Homo sapiens: one gene and its partners. The protein of the gene in region 4 purifies or fractionates together with the protein of the main gene of each other region. This does not show direct contact. Each region holds a gene or a part of one and is shown on either strand. Other genes may lie near its edges.

Region 1 (3,500 bases), on a different chromosome or scaffold from region 4:
TCTATTTTTTTTTTTTTTTTAGTAGAGACTGGTTTCACCGTGTTAGCCAGAATGGTCTCCATCTCCTGACCTCGTGATCTGCCCGCCTTGGCCTCCCAAAGTGCTGGGATTATAGGCGTGAGCCACCTTGCCCGGCCGGTTTTTTTTGTTTTTTGTTTTGTTTGTTTTTGAGACAGAGTCTCCCCCGTCCCCCAGGCTGGAGTGTAGTGGTGCTGTCACAGCTCACTGCAGCCTCAACCTGCCTTCCTGCCTTAGTCTTTGGAGTAGCTGGGACCACAGGTGTGAGCTGTCACACCTGGCTAAGTTTTAAATTTTCTTGTAGAGACAGATTCTCGCTTTGTTGCCCCAGCTGTTCTCCAACGCCTGGACTCAAGCAATCTTCCTGCCTTGGCCTCCCAAACTGTTGGGATTATAGGTGTGAGCCACTGTGCCTGGTCTCCATGTCTGTTGTGTTTATCACTGTGTGGCTGACATATAGTAGGTGTTTTTTTGTTTGTTTGTTTTTTTGAGACAGAGTCTCACTCTGTCACCCAGGCTGGAGTACAGTGGTGTGATCTTGGCTGACTGCAACCTCCGCCTCCCGGGATCAAGCAATTCTCTGCTTCAGCCTCCCGAGTAGCTGGGATTACAGGCACCCACCACCATGCCCAGCTAATTTTTGTATTTTTAGTAGAGACGTGGTTTCACCATGTTGGCCAGGCTTGTCTTAAACTTCTGACCTCTAGTGATTCGCCTGCCTCGGGCTCCCAAAGTGTTGGGATTACAGGCGTTAGCCACCGTGCCCGCCCCATAGTAGGTATTTAGTAAGCATTTGCTGAGTAAGCAAAGATTACTCACTTCCAAAGACTTCGTCCTCTTTATAAAGGTGGTGGTGGTAGCATTATCTTCCTCTCTTCTTCAGGTACATTACCTGTGCTGAATACACTCACTTTTATGGTGGCAAGAAGCCAGGTAAGGCATGCAGTCTTTCTGTTCCCCGTTGGGGGAGTGGTATTAAGGAACTGTGTCTTCAGGATACAGTGAGCTGTAAAAATAGACAACAAGAACACGGAAACTATGGTAGACGAATGGGCTGAGGACACAGTTCATGAAAGAGAAATATACTCAAGATAGAAGAACCTGCTTCATCTTAGTGGTGATTTTTGTAAAATGTAATTTAAAATATTCCCCGATGCTGGGAGCTAAGTAAAAAATAAATAAGTAAATGAAATACAAAATTACATGTACATTTAAATGTTTTTTCTCTATCAAGTTTATAAGGAATAAAAAGAATGATAATATTTTCAGCTGTCAAAACTATCAAGACTACAATAACAAGAGCACTGTCATAATTTTAATGGAAGTAAAAAGTATGCACTTTTCCCAGTAAGTTCTTTTTTGATGTACCCCAAGTGTTTTGGTTTATCTGTTAAAAGGTTTTTAATCCACAGCAATTGCTGTACTTAAAAATTTGCATGAACTTTTTCATAAGCTGTAACTGAATTGCTAGCAGGTGCACATAGATGAAATACTTTACAGAGTAAGATTTCTGTTTTTTATTTCATTTTTAAACAGATCTCCCACAAACAAATTTTCGTCGTTTACCTTTTGACCACTGCAGGTAAGAGTTTTGCGAGTTTACCTTTCCCTTGTAATTGTTCTCTGATCCTGTCTGATAGTGAATCTGCCCCTTGTGGATGTGGGGTTATGCGTAAAAGTGTGCCTTGAAGATGTGGCCCTTCAGTTCATGTTGGGAGAAGATGCAGAGTCCTCGTCATGATGTTAGGAGCTTGCCTTGGTGTTGGATCCTGCTCTAGACCTTCACCAGGGGTGGCACAAACACTATTGTAGTTGGAGGAGAAGGTTGGTGAGAGAGGGAGGTGGCCAGGCTGCCCAGAGAGGGCTCCCTGGGACAGCATTTCAGGAGGTCACCATGCCAGTCTCAGCCAGCCCACATCCTGACCAGGGTGCGTGGCAACTCACCAGGAATGACTGTCCTTTTTCAGTCTCTCTCTGCAGCCCTTTGTCTACCCAGTCTGCACTCCCGATGGCATCGTCTTTGACTTACTGTGAGTTTTTCCTTGAATTTTGATCTAACAAATGTGAGATTCTCAACACCCATTAAGGAAGGGGACCCTTGGTACCCTTGGGTAGGGCTCTTGGGCACACAGAAGTAACAGCTAGGGCCTTGGGGACATGGCAGCAATGCTGCTGTGACCCTTGGGCAGGCAGCTCTAGTTGTCAGGTACTGCTGTCACTGCCTGGAATGGGGTAGACCACCCCCTACCCCTCCAAGTGCAGGCATGAGCCACTGCACCTGGCCTGAAAATGAATTTTTAGGAAATTTCAGCCTTATTTTAGAAAAAGAAAATTTTACCACAGTCCCACTATCCAAGATAACCACTGTAAATATGCTAATTTTTTGTGAACTTATTTGTAGTAACATGATTGAGATAACACTGTGAACACTGTGAAGTGTTGACAGGTAACACTCTGTGGATCTATTTATTCACTTGGTTGTGATGAGAGCTTTTTTCCCCGTGTGATTCAGAATTCTCTGAAAGTATAGTTTTTCTTTGTTCTTTTCTTTTTTTTTTATTTGAGACAGGGTCTCACTATGTTGCCCAGGCTGGTCTTGAACTCCTGCGCTGAAGCAGTCCTTCCACCTCAGCCTCCTGAGTAGCTGAGATTTCAGGCACACACCATCACCATGCCTGGCTTGAAAGTATAGTTTTTGATGCTAGCTTAGTATTTAATTATACAGATGTATCAACATTTATGACGGAGTGGTGGCTTATGTCTGTAGTCCCAGCACTTTGGGAGGCTGAGGCAGGAGGATCTCTTGAACCCAGGAGTTTGAGACCAGCCTGGGCAACATGGTGAGAACCTGTGTCTACAAAAAAGTGCAAAAATTAGCCAGCCATGGTGGTGTGCACCTGTAGTCCCAGCTACTTGGAAGCTGAGGTGGGAGGATCGCTTGAGCCCAGGGGTTGGAGGCTGCAGTGAGCCATGACTGAAACACTGCACTCCAGCCTGAGTGACAAGGCGAAACCTTGTCTCAAAGAAAAAAAACCCAAACCATTTACTTACTCATTTTCACCTGTAGTTTTTGTTGTTTATACATAACTACAGTAATAACTCTGAACATATTTTGAAACCTATGTATCCACAAATATCCCCCAACTTCCTGAGACAAGATGAGGAGCTCTTCCTCTCCTAAAGTGAAGCAAGACCCCTTCACAGGCCTCTAACCTGGAAGCAGCCCTGCAAGACCACAGTGTTGTTACCAGGTGGCGCCTAAGCACCCTGGTGATGCTTTCTGTTCTGTCTTCCCTTCAGGAACATTGTTCCATGGCTTAAGAAGTACGGGACCAACCCCAGCAATGGAGAGGTAGGTGGCTGTGCAGGAGTTTCAGTGATGCTAGTGAATGCTATCCTCTCACTTCTCCTTTTGTTCTGGTGGTTTTCATGAACACAGGAACATGGGAGAGAACCGTTCATGGGGCCCAGTGAGGAGGGAC
Region 2 (3,500 bases), on a different chromosome or scaffold from region 4:
GGCAGCTCGGCGGTCAAGAGAGCGCACTGGGGCCACCATGCCTGGCCTTACCACCAAGGTCCACCCCCAGCTGGCTGTGTGCCCCCAGGCAAGGTCCTTAGCCTTTCTGTGCTCTTGCTTTATCATTTGTAAGTTAGAACTGATGATAAAACTTCTTCCTAGGATCAGTGTGAGGATTAACAAAGTTAGGGCATGGAGGCAGCTGGCGCCATGTCTGCTCAGCACTCTTGACACGTTAGACCATGGTGGTGATGGCGGTTTCCTCAGGATCCTCTCAGGCTTGTCCTGCCATGTACCCAGCCACCCACCCACCCATCCATGCATCCCCCCACCTGTCCACGCATCCCCCCACCTGTCCACGCATCCACCCACCCATCCATCTACCCATCTACGGATTCATCCATCCACCCACCCACACATCCACCTACCCACCACCCACCATCCATGCATCCATCCACCCACCCACCCACCCCCCCATCCAACAATAGGTGGACCCTATCCTGTTTCAGACAAAGTGAAAAAGACATGCACTCAGCCTTTCGAGGGGCTGCCAGCTCTGTGTGGGCCTCAGCTTTCCCATCTGTCCCAGGGTGACGGCCTCATCCTCACAGGCTCATGCTGTCAGCCAGTCAGTCCGTGTGCCGGGGAGTTGGCCCCTAGCAGTGCTGCCTTCTTAATTCACAGATAGACTGGCACTTTGTTCTGTAGTGACTTTGATGGGACAGCTGTGAATAGCGGCCATTTAGCGAATTGCGTTTGAGCTTGTCTGTCAAGGGCTATGGGTGAAAGCCGAACTGGCTGAGTTGAGAGCGTGTCAGGGTGAAGGCTTTCTGATGTGCCGGGAAGACATGTGAAGACCTTCAGCGCTAGTGGGTGTGTGGCCCTGACGGCCTCTCCCTGCACTGGCTTTCATGGTCCCTGGGATGGGCTGCCCTTCATGGGAACCACGATGTGTTCACGCAGGTGTCTTGTCTGTTCTAGCAATGGCGCTTGCTTCCATATCTGGCAGCTGTCTACGCCTTAGACCATTTCTCCAAGTCGCTCTTCCTGGACCTGGTGGAGCTCCAGCGAGGACTTGCATCGGGAGACCGCAGCGCCAGACAGGTGAGGTGGTGTCTGCTTCCTCAGCAGCATCGTTTAAATCTCACACGGTTGGAGCAGCATAGATTCAACCTTCATTTCAAAGCAAAATCAGTCCTTTGATTTGCGAGGACAGAGCATTCCTCCAGTTGTTCCCACCCACTCGGAGCTCTTGGCCTCTGCCGCGATTGAACGGGCTGGGCACGCGTCCACACCCCTGCCTCTCAAGGATGTGCTGACACGACTCCCGGTTCCAGTCTGTGAGTTCAGCTGTTGGTCTCCTTTTGAGAACATGACGGTTTTGCAAAATCCACGTTACCCGCCCCTCAGTGGATTTCATGGTTCTGAGCCTTTTGTAAACAGCTGCACAAAGGTCTGAATCCCACTGACTGGATTTGAGTTGACAGTCAGAGGATTTGTGCCAGAAACGAGCGTGCAAATCCCGAGATCAGCCTCGGCATAAAGAGACATCGGGAACGGATTTCTTTGTAGATGATTATGAACTGATTTTCCATTGTCCCTCCTGCTGCCTCCTGAGCAAGAGTGAAATGTGAATCAAAAGAAATAACCGTGTTTGAAAGCAGAGGAGAAACGCCACAGATTGCTGTTATGTACAACATCAGAAAAAGCCTGTATCTAATTAGCATATCTTGAAATATTATCGGTGTCCACATTCACGGCAGATGATGGCGAAGGGATGACCTGCAGGATTGATGGCAGAGCAAACCCCAGGCCTGGAGGCCTGAGGAGGGAGCGCTTCTGACCACTAAAGGGGTTAAGCCTGTGTTTTCCCTGGAGCGTGAGTCAGTGGAGCTTTTGCCAGCTGACACTTGCATTGTTCTCCTGTGAATAATGTTGTAAAGGGTGACCAGGCTGATTCTTTCTGAAACTCAGTGGTTTAACCCAGGCAGAGGAGGGCCTCAGCTCAGCCCCTTATGTGAAGTTGAAAACACTCATAAAATGGGTCACTGGACTTAGCATGCGTGTGTGTGTGTGTGTGTGTGTGCGTGTGTGTGTGTGTGTGTGTGCGTGTGTGTGTCTTCCTCTTAATTGTTTTTCCTTTTTAATTGTCTTTCTTTTTTAAAATTAAAAATTCTTCTTTTACTCTGAATCAGTCTCTTAAGTTTTTGTTTGTTTGTTTGTTTGTTTGTTTTTGAGACGGAGTCTCGCTCTGTTGCCCAGGCTGGAGTGCAGTGGTGCGATCTTGGCTCACTGCAATTTCTGCCTCCTGGGTTCAAGCAATTCTCTTGCCTCAGCCTCCCAGACTAGCTGGGACTACAGGTGCCCGCCACCACACCTGGCTAATTTTTTTTATTTTTCAGTAGAGACAGGGTGTCACCATGTTGCCCAGGCTGTTCTCAGACTCCTGAGCTCAACTGATCTGCCCGCCTCGGCCTCTCAAAGTGCTGGCATTATAGGCGTGAGCCACTGTGCCTGGCCCAGCCTCTTAAGTTTTCATCATTAGATATCAAGCAGAAGCAAAGGAGTCTTCTTTCTTTTTTTTTTCCCCTTAAAAAAAAGCCTGCAGCACCTGCTATTCCCAGGCGGTCTCCCATCCAAATACTAACCACGCCCGACCCTGCTTAGCTTCACGAGATCAGGCTCATTCAGGGTAGTTTGGCCATGGACAGCAAAGGAGTCTCAATAAAACATGTTAGGCCTGAGGGAGGCACGGTGAGCCCCCACACAGAGCAGACCATCAGTTACCGAGGCGCTTGCAGCCTTCTGGGAATGGACTGGTCCCGGCCCTTCCCTGTCCTGGGAGCGAGCACTGTCTGCGGTGCTGAGTCTGGTTCCCTGGCCTTTCTTCATGGTTTCGCTGCAAACAATTGCAACCTTCCATGGTGTGTCATTCACTTTGACGTTTGTGAACTTTATATAAAGTGGGCCATGACGCACATTCTTCTGCAGTTTGCTTCTGGGACCCGTGTTAGGGCCCTGAGAGCTATTTGCTGTGTAGAGCTGTGTTTTCATTGTTGTGAAATGGTATGAGCGTACCACAGTGTATCCATACTTGGATAAAGACCCTTTTTTATTTCTAATTACAATTAGGTTTCCTCTTCTGTCATTTTCGGGATGTCTTGTATTAGACTAGAGGTGATATGGTGGTTTGATGCTATTGCTGACTTATGACTTTTTGGTGTCTAAAGTCTCTTTTCACCTGTTCTTGTTGGATTCCCTCACCCAAAGGCAGAGCTTGGACGTGAGATCCACGCCCTGGCATCGGCCAGCAAGCCCCTGGCCTCGTGGACCACCCAGCAAGGAATTCAGGAATGCCGGGAGGCGTGTGGAGGACACGGCTATCTGGCCAGTAGGTTTTGGAGAAGCGCATGGTGGTTTCCTGTCCTTAGCCCTGCTGTTTGACTCTAGACCAGGGGTCGGCAGACTGCGGCCTGAGGACCAAATCCAGCCTGCCACCT
Region 3 (3,515 bases), on a different chromosome or scaffold from region 4:
TGTGTTACTAAAAGGCAAAATAAAAGTAATGACTTTATTCTAAGGTTCCTCTTAGTTTTTACATACTCGGTATTCTATCTCTAACACAAAGTAGCCGTTTTAGGTTGCTTTGCATATGAAATGAAGGTACTAATGAATACACAGAAATTAAGTACCTTAGGTATCTGGTCTAATTGCCCTCCCCACCTTATAGTGAAAACAGGCCCAGAAAAACTGACCAGCCCAAGGATGAGGCCAGTTCCTTTGTCTCCCAAAGTCTAAGTGAAAATGGGAGATTCATTTGTGCAATCTATTAGATTACATTTAAACCTATTTTGGGACTGATAAAATTGACAGATGCTCTTTCTCTCCAAACCCCTAATACTTATCACAAAATGATATGACAGAATCAACTAAACAAGGTCATGGGTTATGTCTGACGATAGTTCTCTAGGGAAAATGGAAAGAAATAAAATAACACTTGGCTAAAATGATATCATTTTTAAATGATTACTAACCAGTTGTTACAAAAATCACCTCTTGGTTTTATTTCTTTTTATATTAGTTTGATACGTGAATGTTAGTCCAACTTAATTTTTGAAGGAGAAACAAAATGAAAAATGTTTTTTAAAAAACAAACAGTGGTATCTCTTGTCATGAGTTGGATGCCTGTGACTGACATCAGGTATTGCCAAGTAATAAACATTTTGCCATTCAACTCTAAATCCCTTATTAGCATTAGTTTTAAAGGAAATGTTACAGCTTTTATATTATTTGATTTGGTATTTAATAACAGTTATAAGTACAATGGTAGACACTGAAAAAGAAAACCCTTAATAGAAAAGAAAAAGACAATTTAAAATTAGATTTTGTTGAAGGGTGTTATAAGTGCAACTTTATCCATATGCATTCCTTTTAAGGCATTTTCATTGTCCAAATATCTCAACATGTACATCAAGGTTTATATTATAAAATGGGCTCCTTTTGTATTCATTCAAGACTTAAAGAAAAAATACATCTCAGGACTAAGTGTAGCTGAAAAGAAAAACACAAAAATTCACCACTCACAAAAAGTAACTTAAAATACAAAAGTCATTTAGTATACATTATTACTCCCCATTGTAATTCCAGATTTGGTACAGTATCTTTTTCATTTCCTGACATAAACCATTAAGACAGCACAGGCTGTAGTACTTCATTGTGAGGTGGCTACAACTCTATAATATGCACAGTGATTTTAAAATAGGCTTTTTGCATGCCTTGCATGAAAGGTGCTACATACAAACCTGTTTTGTGAACTCTTTGGTAACCACCAATTTAAAAATTTGGATGAAAGCATTTCCACATGGACAGATCTGAAGCACATTATTGGAGCTCTGAGCCAAAGCTATTACCCTGTATATTGATTCTTCAGTTTCCTTGAGGGGTTAGGTGTTGATTTAGAATACAGCCAGATAATTTAAAGCATGTCAGGCCCCGGTTAGGAAAATGAAAATGGCTCCGATTCGTTTCCAGTTGGCTTTATTATTGTTTGGCAGAAGTTGTTTAGGGGAGAAGAGTGGCTTCCTACAAAGTTTGCTTCTCAAGGTATACTGGAGAAAGTAAAATATTCATGTGGTTACTACTGTCTAGTCGTTTCTTGAAATGGTATGAAAAAAGTGTGATGAATATAATTGAGATTATTCATATTTTTGTAGTCTCAATGTGTTCCCTTGGTTGTCTCTTTAATTGTCCCTTCTCAGGGTCAGCCTACTCAGATTCAGTACTTTACACGTTGTTTTCAGCATTTTCTGCTTGAAGCACTAATGCACTTAACCCAGCATGTTCTGTATTTTAGGATATTAGTGTTCTGGAGAGGTCAAGCTGTAATGTCATTCGCCCTCATTGGGCTACATCACCACCCATTAAATTTCAGCTTTTCAGTAATTGTTCTGGGATGTGTTCTAGTTGTGCAAATTAGATGCTAGCTAATATAAATCTAAGTTACCCACTAACTGTATTTAGCCATAACATAATTTCTATGTTTACTTTTATCCACCTAAAAATGAATGTACATTTTTTGACATGCAATTGTCTCTAGACTGCTCTGATACCTATTACCAATGTGCTACTTGAATCCAGGGAGTTATGAGAGAGAGAGATGTTTCAAAGTCTACGGAAAAGGTTTTAGATATTTCTGTTGTGCATTATTTTTGTATGTTAGTAAGAATCCTTTGTATTTCCATTTACATAGCACCTTTCATCCAAGATTTTCAAAATGATTTAACGTTAACAGCATTTGGTGGTAAAACCTAAGTTACCGGTGGCATTGAAGTACGTAAGTAAGCTCAAGTTCTCTAAGTTCCATTTCAATTTAAACATGCTCTCTTTTTTATTGATGGTCTTTTGGAAATTAGACTGTGAACACAACATTGCTACTGGCCTACGAAAGAGAGAGAGAAAGAGGGAGAGAGAAAGAGAGAGAGAGAGAGAGAGAGAGAGAGACTTTTCTTATGGTTACTGGGTTAGTGATGAAACCCACAACTCATAAACCACACACTATGGAATATGGAATTATTCCAAAAAGTTCTTCAGAGCTGGTAATGAAAGCCTAAGAAGTACACTGTTAAAATTTTAAAAAGTCAGTATGTTTCTCATTTCAGACCTTGAAGATTACTCTGATATTGATGTTAAATAATGAATTTGCATTAATGAGTATCAATGCATTTTTTGATTTCATAAGAAAATAAAACTGTGATATAAAATTGGAACTACTAAAAAAATTGATGTTTCCCTGGGTTAACTAAATCTATTTTTTTGTGCTTCTTCCAAATGTTTAAAGGTAACAAATGCATACAAATATTTCAAAAGTACCAATAACAGTTATCAACTTTAATGTAATATCATAAAGGAGAAAAAAATCATTAATAAATGATAGCCTTAATTATAAATGAGTTTCTGGCAAAATGCAGATCATAGTAACTTATTTACATTATTTTTGCCATAAGAAAACTTCTTAAGCAACAGTCAGCTCTCAAGTTAAAAAAATGCACACGCATACATAACCCAATACCAAAGAAAAGAAATGAGTTAAAGCACAACAGCTTTATCTTGGGAATGCCATTTGCTGAAAAACCATCTTACTAAAAAAAAGTTTCAGAAAAACACTCTTTACCATGGGTTAACTTATGAATGCTTAGTGTTGCTTAATGGGAAATATGGAAAGATTAATATCACTATAAATTTTTTATAACTCCTATTTCATTATGGATTTTTCAGATTTATCTTATAAACTGAATTTCTTTTGCATCAAAATAATTGGCTTTAAGAAAAAAAAAGTATCAACACATGCAGTCTGCTAACCAAATAAGGCTCTGACATGCCAAAACAATTTTCTCTGTATCTTGCTATATAGTACATTCCACAAAATACTACAGCATTTAATTTAGGTTTACACAACTAAATATAAATGGCTAGATTTTGGCTAACACTTAGCAGAAGCATTAAGCAAACATGGATAAATTCATAAAACAAATGATGAAAAAAGCAGATTGTTC
Region 4 (3,482 bases):
CTTTGGAGACGTTTGAAAATGTCCATAATGACAAGTTTAATAATAATCAAGTGAAAAAAGAAAGTTTTGATCTAGGGTGTGTCCCATGAAATGACTTTAGGAATAAGCCCTAAAATCAATATTCTCCAGGCATGAATGCAGATGGGGGGAGATCAACTTCAAGCTCCCTACAGACGAAGGGATCCCACGAGGTTCAGGTAGTTGAATTTTCAAATCGGAGCCAATAAAAAGTAACACTTTAGCATAAACGAGAATGCGCCAACATAGGAAAGCTCAGCTCACATTTCATTTTGAAAACCCAATACATGTATCGCACAGAGGTGCAAAGTCAGAAAAAAGCTGTATCCGTGGCTCAAGGAGAAATAAGTCCGGAGATCGACAAAGACAATGGCAGTCAGGCTGAGGCAGCGAACACAGACAAAGGTCCACAGCCGACTCCAGCTGAATCCATTCCTACGAACCAGGCTGCTTCCACGGCGGGTGGGCCCCAGGCCTCGGAAAAGGCACAGGGACTGTGAACTAGAAACCCAAGCAGCAATGCCAGTGGTGTCCACCATAATCGCACAACATAATAAGCAGTAATCAAAGAAGGGTGTGAAATGTAACAGAGAAGACAGAGGAGTGATGTAATCGCGGAGCCACGGGCTGGAGGCTGTAGAGCCCAGGATGTTTCTGTCGGAAATCGGAGGACAAAGAGCTGAGGATCAAGGCTCAGCAGGTGCCGTTCCCACGGTGGCGGTGGGTGTCGTGTGCCAGCCCTGCCTCGCAGCCCCAGCCTCAAGCACTTCCCTGTACCCTGCAACGGGGAACTAGAGTAAACTCAGCCATGAACATCATCTGGTGAGAAGACCCTGGAACCCTGCATGGGTCACTCAGCCCTTCAAAAACACTGATCAAAGTTATGGCTGCCTCTTCAAAATCCCAGCAGATGAACCAAGGCTGTACATAGTAAACGTGGAGAATGAAAGACCTTCCTGAAACCATTCAACTGGTTCCCCTTCCCAAAATGCATTACTCAGCCAATCTTAAGAACCTAATCTGGATATCTCCAAAAATATCAACTGAGGGGGAAAATTTTTTGAGGAGTCCTCACCCCTTGGGACTCTGCTGTGACACTCTGGCCAGCCCGCAAGGCGGCAGTCCTCCGGCCTGCTGGGTCCTCCACCTGCCCCTTCCACTCCTGCCAGGCGGCTTCTCAGAGCCAACCCTCATTGCAGGGACTCCCTGACCTGCTTCTCCCCACCCAACCTGTGGCCCTGGCTCTCTGGCGGCCACTCCATGCTGACTGCTGCACTTCCTGCAGCCACCCTCGTGCTCCACCAGCCCAGCTCTCTGCTCCTCCCTTGGCCACGTCCCTCTGCAGGGAGTGCGATTACTTCCCCACTGTCACAACTGGCCACCTAGTCCCATGAGAATGCGCATGGAGCTGAGTGGTCTGGAGCCCACCCTTTCCAGGCTGACATGGAATGAGAGCGCCTGCAGGTACCTCCCGGTTTTGGGGGTGGGCCAGGCCTCACAGCATGGCTCTGCTGCACTTCCTCCAACAACTGCAGCTCACCACCACCAGCTGCCACTGTGCTGTGATACATGGTCAAAGAAGGGTCAAAGTGCCATCCAAACTGCCACGCTTGTTTAAAAACAAGGTTTAGGGAGGCCAAGGCAGGAGGATCACTTTAGGCCAGGAGTCTGAGACCAGCCTGGCCTACATGGTAAAACCTCGTCTCTACTAAAAATAACAAAAATAAGCCGGGCGTGGTGGCGCACGCCTGTAATCCCAGCTACTGGGGAGGCTGAGGCAGAAGAATTGCTTGAACCTGGGAAGCAGAGGTTGCAGTGAGCTGAGGTCGTGCCACTGTGCTCCAGGCTGGGCAATAGAGCGAGACTTTGCCTCAAAAAAAAAAAAAAGAAGAAAAAAAGAAATACTGTGATAATTACCAAAATGTAAATCAGAGAAATAAATTCAGCACATGCTGTTGGAAAAATGGCACCAACGGACTTGCTTGATGTGGGGTTGTAGCAAACCTAGCATTTGTTAACAATGTAAACAGTACAGCAACCCTCAAGTGCAGTAAACAAACAGCAGAAAGATGAGGTGAGCTGTGTCCATCAGGCCCCAGCCACCAGAAGGGAGCACGAGAAAGGAAATGTTCTGAAAGACGGCTGTCAGGATGATCTCATCTGGGACGGAAAGGATTAAGCCGAGAATGCTGAGGATGCAGAGTGCTGAGTTATCTCTGCATTGGCAAGATGTGTAGTCCCTCACAGATGCTGATCTGTAACAGAGTATGAGAGATGGGAAAATGCCCCCCAAGATATCCTTGTTCCAATTCCCGGAACCCACGAATACATTACCATACATGGCAGAAGGGATTCTGTGGTTAAATGAAGGATCTTGAGCTGGGCGATTATCTTGGTCAGCCCAATGTAATCAGATCCTCGTAAAAGGGAGGCAGGAGGGTCAGAAAAAGGAGGAGACAAAATGACAGAAGCAGAGGGGAGAGAGGGGCTGAATGAGAGATTCACAGAGAGGGTGAGAGAGAGGGAGAGACAGAAAGGGAGAGAGGGAGAAATATTGGAAGATATCATGCCGCTGTCTTTGAAGAAGAGGAAGGGGCCACTAGCCAAGAAATGCAGGCAGCCTCTCTAGGCCATTTCTTGGAGAAGCAAAAGGAAGTTAGTGCAGATTTGCTCGCATTCATGGCCATGATATTCAGCTCACCAAAAAAATGAAGCTGTATGACCTCAGGATGCCAAACATCCTGGAGATGCCCCTCTGTCTGCCTCTTGCTGCCTTTTCTGTTTGGACTGATGCTGACAATGACTGCTGTGGGTGCCCTCACAGTGACGGCAGACCACATCCTTCTCACCTTGTGAATGTCTGAGTGACCTCTGAGCTAGAGAGAACTTTTGCTCATAGCTCTTCACTTATCTATTAGATTTGAAAACCCTTCTCTGGATTCTTGAACCTCTGAGGCTCACCCCAGTTCATCTCAGCTTCACCCTGGGTCGGTGGCTGCTTGGGAGCGTAGGGGAGCATCAAAAGTATGACAGTCAATAACAGCTACAACCAAAGGTCTTGAGAACAGGATCAGCACCTGCAGAATGGGGGTCAGCCAGCAAAGCTGGCGGGGACTCATGCTCTCCCTAGAAGGTACAAGGCACTGGCTTGATGTCAATTCCTTATTGCTTAGGCTCACTTCTTTCACTCACTACCTGTACACTTAATTATCCAGGTTGGTGTTTGGGATTATGTATGCTTGGAGGCAGGGCTTATGCACCTAATGAACGCAAGAAATTAAAAACAGACTAAGCCGATATCTGACGGTCTTCATGAAGCATAAACAACTCCACAGTGATCTTAAAGATGTGACTGCTCCATGGCTGGGCGCGGTGGCTCATGCCTATAATCCCAGCACTCTGGGAGGCCGAGGCAGGAGGATCGCTTGAGGCCAGGAGATCGAGATCAGCCTAGGAAATATAAT

The links. Proteins that work in one complex are often made in the same cells at the same time.
Region 1: the proteins of FKBP6 (region 4) and PPIL2 purify together in Homo sapiens (affinity purification with mass spectrometry; 3 studies listed by BioGRID and IntAct, with this or other methods). This does not show direct contact.
Region 2: the proteins of FKBP6 (region 4) and ACOX3 purify together in Homo sapiens (affinity purification with mass spectrometry; 3 studies listed by BioGRID and IntAct, with this or other methods). This does not show direct contact.
Region 3: the proteins of FKBP6 (region 4) and CCDC88A purify together in Homo sapiens (affinity purification with mass spectrometry; 3 studies listed by BioGRID and IntAct, with this or other methods). This does not show direct contact.

What each region holds. Positions count from the first base shown.
Region 1 is NC_000022.11:21,669,012-21,672,511, forward strand, and holds part of PPIL2 (RING-type E3 ubiquitin-protein ligase PPIL2), read left to right. Parts: intron 1-901; coding exon 902-951; intron 952-1,287; exon of another isoform or gene 1,288-1,365; intron 1,366-1,554; coding exon 1,555-1,600; intron 1,601-1,985; coding exon 1,986-2,048; intron 2,049-3,318; coding exon 3,319-3,370; intron 3,371-3,500. UniProt on the Homo sapiens protein: Has a ubiquitin-protein ligase activity acting as an E3 ubiquitin protein ligase or as an ubiquitin-ubiquitin ligase promoting elongation of ubiquitin chains on substrates.
Region 2 is NC_000004.12:8,392,224-8,395,723, reverse strand, and holds part of ACOX3 (peroxisomal acyl-coenzyme A oxidase 3), read left to right. Parts: intron 1-981; coding exon 982-1,104; intron 1,105-3,270; coding exon 3,271-3,391; intron 3,392-3,500. UniProt on the Homo sapiens protein: Oxidizes the CoA-esters of 2-methyl-branched fatty acids.
Region 3 is NC_000002.12:55,287,342-55,290,856, forward strand, and holds the end of CCDC88A (girdin), read right to left. Parts: 3' UTR 501-3,515; downstream 1-500. UniProt on the Homo sapiens protein: Bifunctional modulator of guanine nucleotide-binding proteins (G proteins). Acts as a non-receptor guanine nucleotide exchange factor which binds to and activates guanine nucleotide-binding protein G(i) alpha subunits.
Region 4 is NC_000007.14:73,352,161-73,355,642, reverse strand, and holds part of FKBP6 (inactive peptidyl-prolyl cis-trans isomerase FKBP6), read right to left. Parts: intron 1-3,482. UniProt on the Homo sapiens protein: Has an essential role in spermatogenesis. It is required to repress transposable elements and prevent their mobilization, which is essential for the germline integrity.